Homo sapiens: one gene and its partners. The protein of the gene in region 1 interacts with the protein of each later gene in a biochemical or structural test. Each region holds a gene or a part of one and is shown on either strand. Other genes may lie near its edges.

Evidence for each region.
Region 2: the proteins of ATM (region 1) and RPA1 form a complex in vitro, tested with the Homo sapiens proteins (3 studies listed by BioGRID, with this or other methods).
Region 3: of the proteins of ATM (region 1) and RBBP8, one has a biochemical effect on the other in vitro, tested with the Homo sapiens proteins (4 studies listed by BioGRID, with this or other methods).

Annotation. Positions count from the first base shown.
Region 1 is NC_000011.10:108,218,872-108,226,072, forward strand, and holds the start of ATM (serine-protein kinase ATM), read left to right. Parts: upstream 1-4,195; 5' UTR 4,196-4,315; exon of another isoform or gene 4,316-5,265; intron 5,266-5,912; exon of another isoform or gene 5,913-6,703; intron 6,704-7,201. Other genes in the region: protein NPAT, read right to left, coding at 3,629-3,665.
Region 2 is NC_000017.11:1,895,986-1,900,597, reverse strand, and holds the end of RPA1 (replication protein A 70 kDa DNA-binding subunit), read right to left. Parts: intron 3,528-4,612; coding exon 3,423-3,527; 3' UTR 516-3,422; downstream 1-515. UniProt on the Homo sapiens protein: As part of the heterotrimeric replication protein A complex (RPA/RP-A), binds and stabilizes single-stranded DNA intermediates that form during DNA replication or upon DNA stress.
Region 3 is NC_000018.10:22,992,309-22,999,342, reverse strand, and holds part of RBBP8 (DNA endonuclease RBBP8), read right to left. Parts: intron 6,596-7,034; coding exon 5,704-6,595; intron 5,623-5,703; coding exon 5,496-5,622; intron 2,970-5,495; coding exon 2,881-2,969; intron 1,724-2,880; coding exon 1,609-1,723; intron 1-1,608. UniProt on the Homo sapiens protein: Endonuclease that cooperates with the MRE11-RAD50-NBN (MRN) complex in DNA-end resection, the first step of double-strand break (DSB) repair through the homologous recombination (HR) pathway.

The DNA.
Region 1 (7,201 bases):
ATGAAAAGTTTTAGACAGCAATGAGTACATATATTATTAAATAAACAAAGGAGTGTCATAATCAGAGCCATACTTTTGCAAATGTTTTATTAAATATCTATGTTTTGGTGATATAAAGGTGAATAGAACCAGCAGCTCTTGACCTGTTAGGGGTGTGTCAGTTTTGGTCCTGTTTGACCTCAAACACGTTCTTGACCCTTCTGTCGCTCTCTACTGTATGACATAAAGCTTGACTCTATATAGGCAATGTTCCCCAAGCTCTTCTGTCGGCCTGCTACTGGCTGGGCTCAGTAAATAGGAAGCACTGGTGGGAGGCTGGAGGGCAGGAGGAAGCAGCCATATTTTTCCCCCATTCCCTTTCTGCCTCAGTAGAGTCTCCTCTAAGACTACCACTCCCTCATCAGACAAGTCTTCCACGTTCCGCAGTCAAACCAGCCTCTTGATTGCTTCCTCTCTCCTTATCCTTCTCATTAGCATAGTGGCTTCCTACTGTTGCTAACCACTGAGATGCCTTAGTTGTAAGCTGCTGGGCGTCTTAGCTTTTCTCTCACCAGTGTAAACGAATTCTCTCATTAAATCTTTCCATGTTAAATACTCAGAATGGTTTCTACTTTTTTTACTGCATGCTGTCTCATACAGAAGGTAACAAATCTATTCAAGAAAACCTTCACAGATGATAGTTTTGGGGACTCCCAGAACTCTTGAAGCTTGTCCATTCATCCATGACTAAGACTACTAATAAAACAAAAAACCAAGTAAGTTTCAAATTGGGAAGATGAAAAAGTTCCAGAAACTGATGGTAGTGATGGTTGCAGAAAAATGTCAATATAGTTAACACTACTGATCTGTACATTAAAAACAAACAACAACAACAACAACAACAACAACAAACTCATTGTTTTGGGCTTTAAGAACTATACATTTTTAAGTGTTGAATTTTGTTAGTATATTTTATCAAAAAAAAGTAAACACACATCTACAATGAGACATGATAAGGTTGTAACAGAAGTACAATGCTATGGCAACATTTAAGAAGTACTGACTGTACTTGCTGAATGAAGTTTCAGAGATCAGGCATGACCTGAACCTTGAATAGAAGTGTACTAGGAAGACAAAGAGAAGTAGAATACATACAAGAATTTTCAAAGAAACTTCAATTCGTTTGGCATGTCTGCAGCATAAAACAGATGTTAGGAAGTTGAGATCAAGTTGGAGAGGTAGGTAGGATCAGTTCCACAGAGCACCTTGAATAAATAGATAAAAACTGAACTGATGGCCCAGAGGCAACAAACACTTTGATGTATTCTGGCCCACACAACATTTTGTAAAATCCCAGCAAGGCAATAAGGGCTACTTAAGTGGAGTAGTGAGATGCAAAAGTCAGAGTGCAGTATCCTGAAGGATAAAAGGTAGGTGAAGAACAGCAACTAAGTGGAATTCATTGTTCTTTGAATAAATTTGACTTGTGAAAGGGTGACACAGAACATAAGACAGAATGTTCTGTTTAATGGGTGTCTAATGTCTAGTGGGGTCCAGAAAAGTGTTTTTTTGTGTGTATGTTTAAGAATTTAAAAAAAACCTAATTATCTGAACACTAAGGGGAGAAAACTTAACTTCTCTATGTTCAGCAATTGGCACAGTGTTTGGAACATACTAGGCACCCAAAGATTTGCTAGAAAAAAAACATTATGAAGGGACCAATAACAAGAGGAGCTGAAGATGGCGAGGGGGTACTGATAGGAAAAGAATCATGAGTAAATAATAAACCTCATATGAGAAAGATATACACGATATGTATCTATTTAAGATGTAAAATGATAAACGACAAAAGTAAGAGCATTAGGCATGGGGAGGCTTTTTTGTATTGTATACTCCTGCCCATCTGAAATTTTTAGTAAGAATAGAATTATCTCAACTTTCAGACTAAAAGGTATAGTGTGAAAGCTTCAGGGAGATTTGTAACAACAGTAAATAAAATGAATTGCGAGGACAACTGTCTGGGAAGCCATGACAGAAGTCCAAAAGAGAAGTAATGGCAGGCACATTGCGGGATTGGTGGCAGTGAAAATGGAATGTGAATGACAAAGATTTTTAAGATAAGAAAACCATGGCTGGCGTTTTTTGTCCATTAAATGAAAAGCAGGAAGTCAGCAGAGTAGCTGGTTTGTGGAGAAAGAATACTCACACATCGATGTGAATTATTTCAATTAGAAAATGATACTGCTTTCTTAGGGCTTTCTTAACTAGGGGTGATTCTGCCCTCCAGGGGACATACTAGCAATATCTAGAGACATTTTCACTGATCACAACTGGGTAAGGGTAGGGTGGGGAACGGGTGTCCTACTGTAATCTAGTGAATAGAAGCCAGGAATGCTGCTAAACATCCTACAATGTTTGAGCACAGGATAGCTCCCCACAATAAAGAATTATGAGGCCCAAAATGTTAACAGTACTGAGGCTGAGAAACCATGTTTAAGACTATAGTTACCGAAACTCAACTAGATTACCAAACTGCCAAAACTCAGAATTCTTAAGCAAAAGATTAATCAGACATTAACAAAACATTAAACTTGTCATTAAGTTTCTTCAAAAATGGATGGTGGAACCATTTCCGTTTAACGTTTCCTGCAAAATGTGCTTATCAAGAGCCCTGCGCAAATAACATTTTTGTGGACAGCGCTGGGCATTTAAAAGAGGCACAAGACAAATGGGTTTTCCGAACAATAAAATAATAGTAGTAATGGCTGTGAATACTATGGGAGGTTTCATCACAGATGCTTGCCATTTACTTTTAGGGACGTCGCATACGACGTCCGTAAATTACTGGCTCGGGTTTTGAGCTTTACCTGGCTCTCGTCCCCTGTAGTACAATCCTCTTTATTCTTTCAGGGGACAAACAACAACAAAACCCGTCTCTCACACAGACAATACACCCTGACAGACAAGTGACCCACAAACAATCCCTCCTCAAATGAAGGTAAAACTAGGGCTAGAAAACGTTCAACTAATTTAAGGCAATTAACCCTCTGAAATTTTTCGCTGATCAAAGGAACAGGAATTGCTGTTTTAAAATATGCAACTGGCATTTCACACCTCTACACTGGACGACGTATTGCGTGGAGGATGGAGAAGGAAGATCACCCCTACTCCCAAATTCGTAGTTATAAGGGCGGGTTATTAGAAGGGCGCCAGGAAGGTCTCTCTACAAAGATGGGGGGCCGGGGAACTCCCTATTTGCCCTATTTTGGTCCCAACACTGAACCAAGGAAATTGCGCCCAAGGTTGAAGCACACGCAATCCGTCCGTCATGCAGACAAATGCTCTTTCAGGGGTCCTAATTAAGTGTGGAGGCCTGACTTTCCTTCCGAATCCGCCCCAGGTGTTCCACCCCGAGCTTCCCCTCGGGCTTCCCCTCGCCACGCAGCCTCTGAAGAGAGGAGCATCTACATACAAAGAGGCTTAAACTGCCCAGAACCTCCGAATGACGAAGAATCACCGCCAGTCTCAACTCGTAAGCTGGGAGGCAAAACCCCAAAGCTTCCCTACCAAGGGAAAACCTTTGGCCTCAAAGGTCCTTCTGTCCAGCATAGCCGGGTCCAATAACCCTCCATCCCGCGTCCGCGCTTACCCAATACAAGCCGGGCTACGTCCGAGGGTAACAACATGATCAAAACCACAGCAGGAACCACAATAAGGAACAAGACTCAGGTTAAAGCAAACACAGCGACAGCTCCTGCGCCGCATCTCCTGGTTCCAGTGGCGGCACTGAACTCGCGGCAATTTGTCCCGCCTCTTTCGCTTCACGGCAGCCAATCGCTTCCGCCAGAGAAAGAAAGGCGCCGAAATGAAACCCGCCTCCGTTCGCCTTCGGAACTGTCGTCACTTCCGTCCTCAGACTTGGAGGGGCGGGGATGAGGAGGGCGGGGAGGACGACGAGGGCGAAGAGGGTGGGTGAGAGCCCCGGAGCCCGAGCCGAAGGGCGAGCCGCAAACGCTAAGTCGCTGGCCATTGGTGGACATGGCGCAGGCGCGTTTGCTCCGACGGGCCGAATGTTTTGGGGCAGTGTTTTGAGCGCGGAGACCGCGTGATACTGGATGCGCATGGGCATACCGTGCTCTGCGGCTGCTTGGCGTTGCTTCTTCCTCCAGAAGTGGGCGCTGGGCAGTCACGCAGGGTTTGAACCGGAAGCGGGAGTAGGTAGCTGCGTGGCTAACGGAGAAAAGAAGCCGTGGCCGCGGGAGGAGGCGAGAGGAGTCGGGATCTGCGCTGCAGCCACCGCCGCGGTTGATACTACTTTGACCTTCCGAGTGCAGTGGTAGGGGCGCGGAGGCAACGCAGCGGCTTCTGCGCTGGGAAATTCAGTCGTGTGCGACCCAGTCTGTCCTCTCCCCAGACCGCCAATCTCATGCACCCCTCCAGAGTGGCCCTTGACTCCTCCCTCTCCTCACTCCATCTTTCCTGGCCTCTCTCCGGGTGCTTAGCGGACTTGGCCAATAACCTCCTCCTTTTAAACGCCCTGAATTGAACCCTGCCTCCTGCGCATCCTCTTTTTGTGTCACCTTAGGGTTCAGATTTAACTACGCGACTTGACTAGTCATCTTTTGATCTCTCTCTCGTATTTAGTACTTTTAGTCAGCGAGCATTTATTGATATTTCAACTTCAGCCTCGCGGTTAAGAGCTTGGGCTCTGGAATCATACGGCTGGAATTGGAATTCTGTCAGTCGTGTGGCCGCTCTCTACTGTCTTGTGAAGATAAGTGAGATAATCTTGACCTGTGGTGAGCACTCGTGAGCGTTAGCTGCTGTATTTACCAGGTACAGATAAGACAACTACAGTGGATGATAATGTATGTGGTGATAGGGGAGTACTCTGATGGTAGAGGAGTGACTTTGGTTCTCTGCAAACTCAGCCTGAGACTATCAATTCAGTTTGTGGTGAGACCTCGCAGTGTTACCTTGGCAGATGGTAGAAGCCTTCCAGATGGAAGGAAAAATGCGTGTAAAGGCACAAAGTGTAGAAGGACCCTGAAGCTCCAGCGTGAGGCCTGGCATTGAATGAAATATATTTTGTGGGTTTTCAGCTGCTGAAGTCATAGGAATGGATGAGACCAAGAAAACAAAGCTGTTTTTGAGGTATGAGCGGAAGAAGAGATATCAGGAGACTTTCGAAACAGTCATAACGGAAGTTAATATGATCATTGCTAACATTTGCTGTGTTTCAGGCACTGTAAGCATGTATATGGGTCCTTAAAGGGACTCATAGAGGTAGGTACTAGTATTGTTTTTCCTTTTATCATTGAGAAACTGAGGTTTGAAGAGATTAGTGAACTTGCTCTAGATTATACAGTTTGTAAGTGGCTGAACCAGGATTTGAACTAATACAATCTGACTACAGAGGCCACACTCCTTAGCACTAGAAAAGAATGGCATGCCAAGGGCAGAGTTATTTCTAGGAAGATGGGATATAAGCGTCATTGTCAAGTTGTGCAAAGGGGTCAACTTGGTTGAGATCTAAAAAGGAACACTGAATTCGTCAATTCAGAGGCTCGTAGGAAGTAGGAAATCCTTATCTTTTCGTTTGAACCTTGAGTGGAACCTAGATATTCTGGATTAATGTATAAATGAAGTTCATCTTTATATGGTGACACTCATACTCTAGTTGACTACCTAATAGTTCCTCTGCCTTCTTTCAGTTCCGCCAACATACTGTGTTCTTTAACATTGTAGAACCCTTTGGCTATGCTAGTCTCCTTCCCTGAAGTGTTGGTCCTCTAGCCCTTTTTTTGATTGGCACCAGTTAGTTCAGATCTTGGCTTTATTATAAACTCCTCTGAGATATATGTTCCCTGACAGTTTATCTAAAATGATTCTCTCTACAGTTATTTTCTATTACTGTGTTTTTGTTTCCTCAGAGGCATACATCACAATTTGGAATTATGCATTGGTTTATCAATTTACTTGTTTATTGTCACCCTGCTGCCCAGATATGACTTCATGAGGGTAGGATTTGTATCTGTTTAGTTCATTATTTGTCTAGCTATAAGTAGTAAATATTGTTTGCATCTATCAGTGAATGAGCATCTTCTGTTTATGTAGATAATACTGAACTGTTTTGTTTTCTTCAAAGTAATCATTAAGCTGAAGGTAAGAAAAACAAGTTCAAGGAAGTCACACCATGGGGAAAAAAAAGTCAAGTTTAGGGCTGCCTCTTCCGGGAAGTGTCAAATCTTTAGTATATTTAGGAATAAAGGTGCCAAACCTTATGGTTCTTTGGATATTGCTAAGGTATTTTCATTGGTTAGATTACCAGTTTCATTTTCCTTATTGACTCAAGAGGGCTTTAAACTGAGATTGAAGAAGTAAGAAGATTCCTAGATAAAACCATAAGGAATGGAAAAACAAAAATGATAATACTTGTCCACAGGAAGTATATAATCAAATGAAAAGAACTCAAATAACAATCTGTAATCTATAGCAGAGTAAAGCGGAAGTTGTAATAGTGTTGGGGGATGGGGGAAGTCAGAAGAACCACCAGTGAATATAAAAGGAGAAGAGAATCAGAGCCATCTGCTAATAAAATGGGTAGTCAGCTCTTTTTGTTTTTTTTGTCTTGTTTTGTTTTGAGACAGTCTCGCTCTGTCGCCCATGCTGGAGTGCAATTGCGTGATCTCAGCTAACTGCACTTTCCGCCTCCTGGGTTCAAGTGAGTCTCCTACCTCAGTCTCCCCAGTAGCTAGGATTGCAGGCACATGCTACCACACCTGGTTAATTTTTGTATTTTTAGTAGAGACGGGGTTTCACGATGTTGGCCAGGCTGGCTGGTCTCGAACTCCTGACCTCGTGGAACGCCCACCTCGGCCTCCCAGAGTGCTGGGATTACAGGCATGAGCCACCACGCCTAGCCCCGGTAGTCAGCTCTTACTGAGAATATTCAAAGACAGGGCATTCATTTTGTAAGAGACATTCCTTCCTTCATAGGAAGATTGGACCTGGTCTTTTAGTTCCTCCCAATTTTGAGATTCTGTGAGATTGAATCGGGGCAGAGAAACATACTTAATCTTGAAAGATTAAGTAGAATTTAGATGGATGGATAGGAGAAGGACTTTCCCTACCTTTTTACTTCTTGAGATATAGTTATTTGTAGGTATAATATACATAAATATATGTATTTTTTCTCTGTTTACAGACATTCATAGTTTAA
Region 2 (4,612 bases), on another chromosome or scaffold:
ACCCAGGCTGGTCTCGAACTCCTTGGCTCAAGCGATTTGCCCGCCTCAGCCTCCCAAAGTGTTGGGATTATAGGCATGAGCCACTGTGCCAGGCCAATTTTGTTTTTCTTAACTGTAGATTATTTTCCTAAAATAAACATGGAGGCCGGGCGCGGTGGCTCACACCTGTAATCCCAGCACTTTGGGAGGCCGAGGCAGGTGGATCACAAGGTCAGGAGTTCGAGACCATCCTGGCTAACACGGTGAAACCCCGTCTCTACTAAAAATACAGAAAATTAGCCAGGCATGGTGGCACATGCCTGTAGTCCCAGCTACTCAGGAGGCTGAGGCAGAATCGCTTGAACCTGGGAGGCGGAGGTTGCAGTGAGCTGAGATCGTGCCACTGCACTCCAGCCTGGGTGACAGAGCAAGACTCCGTCTCAAAATAAATAAACAAACAAACAAACAAATATGATTACTTGCATAAGAAAGTCAATAGTCCAAATTATCCTTTTTTTTCTTAAACATTTACTTAATGTCTTAATAACAAAAATACCAGTTTTTTTGAATAAGTGAAAATTAAACATCTATGCTCTCTTTTTGAGGAACCGATGACTTCCAAAGGTGTTTATAAAAGCCAGAACTCTACCAGCGGAGTGGATATAAGACTAAGAGTTAACAAACCACATAAAAGGTGGCCGGGGAGTGGGGGGAATCTTCCCTTTGAGACAAGGAAACAATCAGTTTACTAGGGGAATAGTGGCCTTCTAACAGGTGAAAAGAAGAAAAGGAGACCAAACAACCTGTTTCATCCTCTATAAATAAAACCTTGGGCGGCATATTGCCAAAGAAACATGAGTCAATATAAACCTTTACATACTGGGCGGCCAAACTTCACTTTTGGACAGTATATTAATTATGTAGTCAATAACCATGGGTTTCATTAGTGTATTAAATACCACGATCAATAGTATTTATACTTTTTGAAGACAGCCCACTCAGGAAACAGAAGTGGGGGAGGGGAACATTTTTGACCCTGCAGTTCAAAAAAGGAACAGCACGCGAGAGATTAGCAAGGTTTTAATGGAAAGCATAAAACACTGGAAATATGGACAGAAATCAGATTATTACCCTTTTATTTTTTTCCCTGCCCCTTTCACAATGAGACTGGAGGGAATTCAAGAACCACTTGAAATAAAGGCGAAATGATTAGATTTTTTTCTCCTAATTGCCTAACGCTGATGTCATGGTGTACGCAAAATCAACATTGATCTCTAAGTGAAAGAGGAGAAACAGAACAACATCAACAGCCTTTCGAGGTAAACTGTGGGCCAGAATCTATTTAGGCAACCCGCAGGGACCAAAATCTCTGAAAAGCCCAACAGTGGAGCCAGTTTCTGATGCTCCTCTGCTGGTGATCTGATCTTTGAGTGGGGAAATCTGTTAGAAACAGCCTCCTCGAGGGAGCCCTCCCCCTGGCACTGCCCCTGGGTTCCCAATCACATCCACGGAGACGTGCTGGTTTCATCACGCTGGCCACTGAGAAGGCGCGAGGACAGGTGTCAGCGTTCCCTGGACACGTCCTGTCCTGGTACCACGGCTGGTCAGGCCTCTTCACTGTGTGGACAGACACGTGGGGAGAGGAGGGAATGCTGGGAGTAGTAGGCATGAAAGACTGGTTACTGGGCTGAAAGCTAGATCGCCACTTCCCAGCCACAATTTGTCAATCCAGAAGAGGGTTGAAGACTGTAATTTTCTCGTCGATGCTTTATAAGCAAGGTCAGACAGAAAAGAACTTCCGTAAAAATGGCTGAGGCCTCAGTCAGAGACTGAAATGCGACCCAGTTACCATCTCCTGAGACTAGAGAAGGGTAGGAAGGAATGTGTCTAAACAATTAGTGAGGCTGAGCAGGAGTCCCTCTGTGTCTGTCCTCAGGAACGGAAGTCATCCCGTCTAGGGCTGGCTGGCCCCTATGTCAACGGCAGACACCGAGGGGGGAGACAGACAGGACACCATCACTCCCCATATCCAAAAGCCTCCGCAGGCGGCATGTGCAGTGATGAACAGCAGGTCCTCTGGCTGCAGAGTGACCGCCGCACTGCCGGGGTACGACGGCGAGATGTGCGGCCAATGGCAGGCGGTGTGTTGCAGCCACCGGATAGATAATTAATATGATTAGGAACACACAGAGCGAGCATGCTTTTGCTGACTGAAAGGCCCACTAGCATAATTACTGTTTTCTTACCAGCTCACTGTCTGTACACATTTCAAAGCGTGGTTGGTGTTAGACTGCTGCGTAAACATCAATAAAATCCCAAGTGCCAGATCATCAGCATCCTCAGGCAAAATGGCTTTTTGTTTTTAGTGTTTTCATGCTTTGAAAGATGCATTTCAGGGCTGCAAACACTAGGAAGAAGGATCTCCATGCCTTGGACTAATCTTCGGGTTTATAATGAGTTAACATCCCCCCCAAGTGAACATTTATTATGAAGGCTAATTAATTGCTTTCCAGTTATAGGAACTCTTTGCATTCAAAGAAAGTAGGATTCACAACCAAAGAATATACTGTTTATTAAAACAAAGCAAGGGAAACAAAAGGCTTCAAAATCCTTTCCATGTAACATAGCTTTAGTCAAAAAAAACAAAATACATGAATGCAGGAATGTGTACAGGTAGAAAAAGTACGCACTCACCAAGCGAAGCGCAGCATTAATTGAAGTGAGAAGTAAAGAAACGCTTTGTAGCCGCTCGGATTTCCTTAGGGGACGGCAAGTCAATGCTTATCAGCGGTCCTCAGAAGAGACAATTTTGATTAATATCAGACCCATCTGACTCAGTCTATTAAACCCTGAAGGAAGGATACTCTTCAGATATAGAAGATATGCCTTTGATTAATCATTCTACCCTATTGCCATTCCAAGCATTACCAACTATGTAGCACCTCTAGAAAGAGAGAGCCTTCGAATTCTAGGAAGACACACTTACTAAAATCCCCAGGTGCTCATGACCGCTTCTCAGCTCGCCCCGCTGAGAAGAACCCAAGTTGTGAGCGGGGATGGGGGGGGGTGGTCACCACTGGAGAAGCAAAAACCTAGTTACATAATTTACTTCATGGTCTGCAGTTAGGGTCAGTGACTTACGACATAATTCCTGCTTGATGATAATGAAATTGACAGAAGCCTGAAGGCAGAGGGAGTGACTGGTCTTGCGCTAGCCACTGGCTGACTCCGTAGGCCTGACACAGTCTACACCACAACCACCTGAGCGTATTTTCCTTTGCCTACCGATGGGTTCTGAGATGCGCACGAGGGGGGAAATTGCTTAGTCCACCATCAAGAGCCTCTGCACTGTGTAGCTAACATGGGATCGTCACACGGAGGTGGGAGGAAATCGATTCCATTCTGCCTATTTGCAAACTTCTGCCCGATTGGCACTGCTCCTCTCACATCAATGCACTTCTCCTGATGCTCATGACCAGCCTTCGGCCATACTCTCTGTAGTCCACGGGCTTCACGTCCATCACAGTGGCCTTAATTCGAGACTCGTCCTTCAAAAAGGGAGAAGTAGTTTGTGAGCAGTGAAAGTGTGGTGTGGAGCAGTGAAACCCCTTTTGCTTCAGTGGTTTCAGTGAGCCCAGCGGGAGGGAACAGACGCACGGGTTCAGAGTTCAGTCATTCCAGTGAGTGACAGCCTCCTCCTGAATGTCTGGGGCTGGGCGAGTGAACAGGTCCTTTCTCCAGCACAGGCCCTTCTGATTCTTTACCCAAGCTCCCAAACACCCAGAAGCCTAGAATCCTAGTGAGATGGACTTTAGAGGGTTTCTCTAGTTTCATTTATTCTCCCTACTGCAGGGGATACAGCCCAGAGAGGACATGTGACTTGCACAAAGCCACACAGCTAGTTCTGAAAGCTAAACTTTCAAACTTTCATTTCAAGAAAAGCTGAGTGGTGAAAGGAAGAGCACCTGCAGCAGAGGGAGAGGACCGAGTCTGTCCTGTCTCAGCTCTGGGGAGGCAGCCTCTCTTCACTTCACCTTCCCTGTCCAGACACGATGGGGCTGAATGGCCCCAAAAATCCCCCCCAGCCCCACCCCACTCCCTGACATTGTTTCACGGTGACATCTGATCCCCTATCTCATTTAATGTTTATAGTAGTCGCAGAAGAACGGGCGTTAAGGTAAATACGTGAGTAAACCCTGCAATCAGCAGGGGCGTTTCTACCACTCCCCCTGCCCACTCGTACGTTTACACTCACGGCCTGAATGGTGCCTTTCCGGGCAGAACGGAGTGATACCCAGGAAGGCTGCACAGGCGAGCTCGGGGCTGTCACACTGCTGTGTGCTTGGTCGGTACTAAATCCCGTGATACTCGTAAGCATGATCAAAAGCAAAGCTCTGAAGTCAGGCTGCCTGGGTTGGACGTTAGCTCGACCACTTGCTAGCATACAACTTAGGCAAGTGACTTGTTCTCTGAATGCCCGTGTCTCTCTGTATGTAATTCCTTCAGTGGCAAAATAGGGTAACCACAGTTTCTACATATAGGGTTACTAGGCTCAAGTGAGATGTTCCACGTAAAGGATGTAGAACAGTTACCTGGCAGACCATGCTCAATACTGTTTGATTATAACTATAAC
Region 3 (7,034 bases), on another chromosome or scaffold:
TTCAGTTCCAGCCACCATCTGCCTACAACTGCATGAGACCCTGAAACAGAACTGACCAGCCAAGCCTTTCCTGAATTCCTGAGCCACAGGAACTATGAAGATAAGAAAATGGTATTGTTTGAATCCTCTGAGTTATTCAAGTGATTCATTCATTATGTAGCAATACTATCCATAGCACTTTATTAGCCAAAATTATCTCTATAATTTCCCCTCATTAGTCCAAGTGCTAATTTCTCTTTCACATGATACTTGCATCAAATAAATTTGAGAAACTATTGTCTTCTGAATAGATTTAAAGTGGTCATACTTTAGATTTTCTCTTTTCTACAAAAATGAGAAAAACATGATCAGAGGCTAGTATCAGGAACAAAATAATCTTAAAAGCAAAGTATCCTCTTAAGAAGAGTTATTTAGTGTCATACAAGCCATAAAATGGCAATAAACTACTGTGAAGGTTTTTTCTTTTAATAGGTATTGGCTTCTCTACCCAGGTAACCATCTGCTTCATCATATGGTTTGCTATTTGTCATTGAAGAACAAATAAGGCAAAGACTACTAAAGTTTTCTTTGATTTACTGCATTTAAGGCAGCAGTAGATAAGTAGATTCAAAAGAAGCCAGGGCAAGACTATTTTATTTTTTGCTCTGAGCAGGTAGACTATAGAAAATTCAGCAGAAGATAAGGAATGCACACCCAGCCTCAATGTATTCGGCTTCTAACAAATGATCACTGGGGAATGTCTCTGCTTTTAGCACTGCTTCCCCATGTGGCAGGCCCTCGCTCTTCAATACATAAGGATGATAAATGACAACTGTTCATAGTCTAGCTGTTCTCATGTCATGTGCCTCTACAGTTAGGAATGTTGCTAAGGTACTGCTAACCAAAATCCTCCTATTGTTCTCATCTCTTCCGGAAAATCAAGACTTTGGGTAAAGAATTAATAGTTTCTCACTACAAAGGGCTGTAGACCACTAATTTGGCCAAATTGCCTTATCAGTAGAGGTGGAATACAGCAGATTAACTCAGCATATACACTATCATTCTGAATGTTAACCTGTAAAACTATACTAAGACTTCTCGGTAGATTTCTCCTTTCTTTCCTTATCAAATTTCTTTAGAAAACGTTAATTCTAACACAGGACTCAAGACTTACTGTTATACCACTTATAAAAAATTGTCTACACCAGGGATCAGCAAACTTTTTCTTAAAGGGTCAGAAAATAACTATTTTAGGCTTGTGGGGCTATAAGGTCTCTGCATCAACTACTCAACTCTGCAGCTGTATGGAACAAACAGCGATGGGCAATACATAAAGAAATGAATAAGGCTGTGCTCTGGTAGAACTTTATTTACAAAACTGGTAGCTGGCTGTCATTTGCAAATCCCTGGAAGCCATATGAATCTTTTCTGAAATGAAATTAGTTTGGTTAAAGACTTTTTTTCTGACGCACTGAAACTGAGCTTTCCTAAGAGGAACATAAAGTTAACAGAGCAGGAAAAAACCTGCTTTATGGTGAAGAGGTCACTTGAGCTAATCAGTGCAATGGTACAACTACAAACTTCACACAACGTTATTAAAAAAAATAACAAAACAAAAACAGATCTTACTTGAACTTTTTTCTCCCTTCTGCTCTTGCTTCTTCATTTTTAAGAGAACGGTTTCACTAACCAATGTACAGTCCATGTCCACTGTCTCTCCTCCTAATTTTGACTGACTGCCATCCTAAATAAATATTTTAAAAATCAAAAATTTTAACAATTATTCCTTTATGGTCTTATATTTAATTTTTACAAAACATTTTGGTAAAATATACATAACATACATTTTACAACTTTTAAGCATTAAGCTATATTTGCTTTTATACTTTACGAACAGGTAAGGATTTAGGTTTTACTGCTTATAAAACATTTTAGCTTCAATATAATCAAGCCTAGGAAAAGAAGGACTGCTGCCAAGGAAAGGGAGAATTATTTACCACTAAACACCCCTGAACTTTTCCTGCCTTTATTTTCCAATTTGCCTTATAGTAATGAACATCAATGTACACTAAGAACACTTTCAAAAATTAAATTAAATTTCTTGATAGGCATATATTACTCAGCGTATGTTAAATACTTTGTTATTAATATGCTACCAAGTGAAAGAGAACTTCTGAAACTACACAGAAGCTAAATACAAGACAAAAAACTATTTCCACTATGAATTTTAACTTTTAAAAATAGTCAACTTGGAAAATGAATTTTATGGTACATTATTTTAAAGGTAATGAAGACATGATGAATTATTTTAATGAATGATAAAATTATATAAGATATGCAGCATTTTGCATTATTTTAATTTATGAGACAGGGTCTTGCTCTGGTTGCCTAGGCTGGATGTGCAGTGGTGTGATCATACCTCACTGCAGCCTCGAATTCCTGGGTTCAAGGTATCCTCCCAACCTCAGCCTCCCAAGTAGCTAGGACTACAGGTATGCACTGCCATGCCCAGCTAACTTTAAAATTTCCTATAGAGACAGGGCCTTGCTATATTGCCCAGGCTGGTCTCGAATTCCTGGCTTCAAGTGATTCTCTCTCTTCGACCTCCCAGAGTGTTGGGATTACAGGCATGAGCCACTGCGCCTGCCCACTGCATTCTTTTAAAAACTATATTAATATTTTTCAGTAAAGGCCTTTAAAGTCAGAAAGTATTACCCTTTAAAAAATACCATAAAGTTAGAAGAATAAGCATTTTTATTTCTTAATTTTCTGCATAAATACATGTAGGTTTTAAGACGTATCTGATTATCTTAAGGTGATACAGTGAGTCACGAGAGGAGGTTGACTAACAACTCATTGGAATAAAAGTCAAATGAGTTTTGGTTTTACTTTTTAACTTACCTTTGTATCTATTACAGTAACATCCATTTTATACTGAGAAAGGTCTGCTCCCGGATCTATACTCCACTGGATATTTTCAAAGGATACATCTTAGGTAAAGGGAAAGAGCATGCAATTAAAAAACTGATTTCAAAAATTCTCATCACTTTAAAATATTATGGGACCTAAAGAATAGAAAATTTTTGCAAATCATATGTCTGGTAAAGGACTTATATCTAAGATATATAAAGAACTCTCACAGCTCCATAATAAAAAGACAAATATCCCAATTAAAGATGGGCAAAGGATCTAAATAGACAGTTCTCCAAAGAAGATATACAAATTGCCAATAAACATGAAAGGATGCTCAACATCATCAGCAGTCAAGGAAATGCAAACCAAAACCACGAGATGGCAAAAATCAAAAAGCTATAACAAGTGCTAGTGAGGAGGTGGAGATACTGGGACCCTCACATACTGCTGGTGGGAATGTGAAATGGTGTAGCTGCTTTGGAAAACAGGCAGTCTTTCAAAAGGTAAAATGTAGAATTGGCATATGGCCCAACAATTCCACTCCTAGGTATAATCCAAGAAAAATGAAAACATACATCCACACAAAAACCTGTATACAAATGTTCATAGCAGCATTGTTCATAATAGCAAAAAAGTGACAACTTGAATGTCAGCTAATAAATACCTAAAATATGGTATACTTATGCAATAAAAAATTATCCAATAAAAAGAAATAAAATATTGATATATGCTGTAACACAGATAACTGAAAACATTATGCCAAGTGAAAGAAGTAACAAAAGATCATATATTAAACGATTCCATTTATATGAAAACTCCCAGAATAGGCAAATCTACAAAGAGAGAAAGTAGATTTAAGGTGCCTAGGACTGCAGAGGGTATATGGGGAAGGAAAGTGATGAAAATGTTGTAAACCTAGACTACAGTGATGGTTGTACAACTCTGTGGGTATACCAAACCACTGAATTGAACATTTTAATGGGTGATTTTTATGGTATGTGATTTATATTTCAATTAAAATTTTTTAAAATTAAAAACTATAACATTGATGGGGTTTTCAATATATGTAGATAAAATACACAGGAACTACATAAAGTGTAGTTACAGAACATGAAATAGTACATTAACTCCAAGTAGATTGTAAAAGGCTAAGTAGGTAGATACTGTAATCCCTAGAGCAACCATGAAAAAAATAAAAACAAAAAGCTCAAAAAAAATCATGAATGATAGTGAAAAAAATGTTTTCATATAGAGACTAAAACACTCACTGGAAAAACAACTAATGACTGTGCTTCAGGAAAAAGGGAAAATAAACCCAGAATAAAGGAATAACTTGCCAATGAAGAATACAAGAAAAAATACTGCACTTGAACTACAGAAATGTTTGGTGGCTGAAAAAAAAAATTACTTTTTTAAAGATAGCAGGCTGGGCGTGGGTGGTTCACACCTGTAATCCCAGCACTTTGGGAGGCCAAGGCAGGCAGATGGCTTGAGTCCAGTAGTTCGAGACCAACCTGGGCAACAAGGCGAAACCCAGTCACTTCAAAAAATAAAAAAATCAGCTGGGTGTGGTGGTGCATGCTTGTAGTCCCAGCTATCCAGGGGGCTGAGATGGGAGGATCCACCTGAGCCTGGGAGGTCAAGGCTGCAAGTGAGCCGTGATCATGCCACTGCACTCCAGTCTGGGTGACAGAGTAGGACCCTGTCTCAAATAATAATAATAATAATAATAAAATATAGCAAAATTATGAAAAGATGCCTATATATCTTAAGGCAAACAATTTTTTTTTTCTTTTTTTTTTTTGAGACGGAGTCTTGCTCTGTCACCCAGGCTGGAGTGCAGTGCAGTGGCACGATCTCGGCTCACTGCAAGCTCCACCTCCCGGGTTCACACCATTCTCCTGCCTCAGCCTCCCGAATAGCTGGGACTACAGGCGCCTGCCACCATGCCTGGCTTATTTTTTGTGTTTTTAGTAGAGATGGGGTTTCACCACGTTAGCCAGGATGGTCTCGATCTCCTGACATCGTGATCCACCAGCGTCGGCCTCCCAAAGTGCTGGGATTACAGGTGTGAGCCACCGTACCGGGCCAACAATGTTTTTAAAGGAGTTTAAAAACGTATATAAGTGGCCGGGCGCAGTGACTCACGCCTGTAATCCCAGCACTTTGGGAGGCCGACGCTGGTGGATCACGATGTCAGGAGATCTAGACCATCCTGGCTAATGTGGTGAAACCCCGTCTCTACTAAAAATACAAAAAAAAAAAATTAGCCGGGCATGGTGGGCGCCTATAGTCCCAGCTACTCGGGAGGCTGAGGCAGGAGAATGGTGTGAACCCGGGAGGCGGAGCTTGCAGTGAGCCGAGATCGCGCCACTGCACTCCAGCCTGGGCGACAGAGCGAGACTCCGTCTCAAAAAAAAAAAAAAAAAAAAAAAAGAACAGAAAAATCACCGGTAAAATGTGAGAATCGTCCTATAAATACAGACACCTGAAGGAAGAAATAAGTTTTTTTCCAAAACAATTCAATCTATTTAAAAAAGTAAATAATGACATTCAATCTGAAGTCATTAAAAAAGTGGAGATCCTGTTTATGGTGTACACACCTTGGTTGTTTTGTAGAGACTTTATTTTACCAGTTCTACATGGATTTAACTGAAGAACTGATGCAAGTTCACATCCTCCATGGTCTGACCTGGTTTGTATTTTTATTGGCTCATGAGAACCAGCACTCTAAAACAGAAATAATTGTTAGCTCTAAATGAAATCACAAGCAATCATTTTAATCAAAATCCTTGAACATTTAACACAAACCTTTATGTCATCTAAAACATTCTCAGTCTCCAAACTTTCACGTGGACGTAGAGGAATTTTAAAGACAGCATTTTCTTCTTTTATTTGTAATGATGGTTTATTGTCTGGAGAGCATTTATTCAAGGGCTGAAGGATGATGCATTCCTGTGAACAGGGCTCCCCTGGGGAATCTTTGGGCAACGTGCAGTTGCCATCTGAGGCCTTACGGCTTGAGGAAAAGCCCTTTGGAATGGTCTTCAAAGCCTCATAAAGAGTCACTTGCCTAAATTTGTTTTTAGAAGTCTCACTTCCTTGGCTTTTCTCTTGACGCTGAATAGCTGAAAATCGATCAGACAGATCCAGAGGTTTATCCATCACACAGTCTCCATTCATGGAAAACTGATTATCCATTGGAAAAGGGAAAGCATTTTCTTTATCAAAAGAAGCTTGGGGGCAGCTTACTTCATGTTCACTTTCTTCCTCAGTTTTCTTCCTTTTGGATGTTCGGCCTCCCAATGATTTCAGGGGCTCCAAATGTTTATCAGTGTTAGAATCTTTACCGTACTCAGTCCTATTCTGTTCACCTAGGGATTCACTTATATTTTTATTTATAAGTATCTGTTTATTAGATGACTGGATAATGATCTTGTTCACTTCAGACCCAAGACTGTGATGTGTGAAAAGGGCACTATCTTCAGATTTTGATCTAGTTTTTTCTAATCTAGATATACAAGTGTTGCTAAAAGGGAGTGTTTTCAGATGTTTTTTTTTCCCAGGCTGTAAAAGAGAAGGGGACAAACTTGTATTCAAATCTAAACCACTTTTGATACTAGAGGTAGCTCCAAATACAGGAGATGACACTCGAGTAGGTAATTCTTCTTGAGGAGGAGTCTTTGAAGTAGAATCTGAAAATCTAAATAAAGAGTGATAACAATTCTTTAATACAGAATTAATAGTAAGGTCTTATCTACCTCTTAGAAGCAAATGATTAACCAAAATTTAAGACAAGGTACAGCTTTTGGCTTCTCTTCATTTAGATGACAAAAGAGAAGGGGAAAAGCAGAGGAAAATGACATAGGAAGTATTTCTCAACACCATAATATTCATATTTTAAAAATTTTTCCTAAGTACTTTAAATAACTTTATTATACAAAAAATCATCTTTTGCCAGGCGCAGTGGCTCATGCCTGTAATCCCAGCACTTTGGGAGGCCAAGGTGGGCAGATCACTTGAGGCCAGAAGTTCGAGGCCAGCCTGGCTAACATGGTGAAACCCCATCTCTACTAAAAATACAAAAATTAGCCGGGTGTGGTGGCACACGCCAGTAATCCCAGCTACTCTGGTGGCTAAGG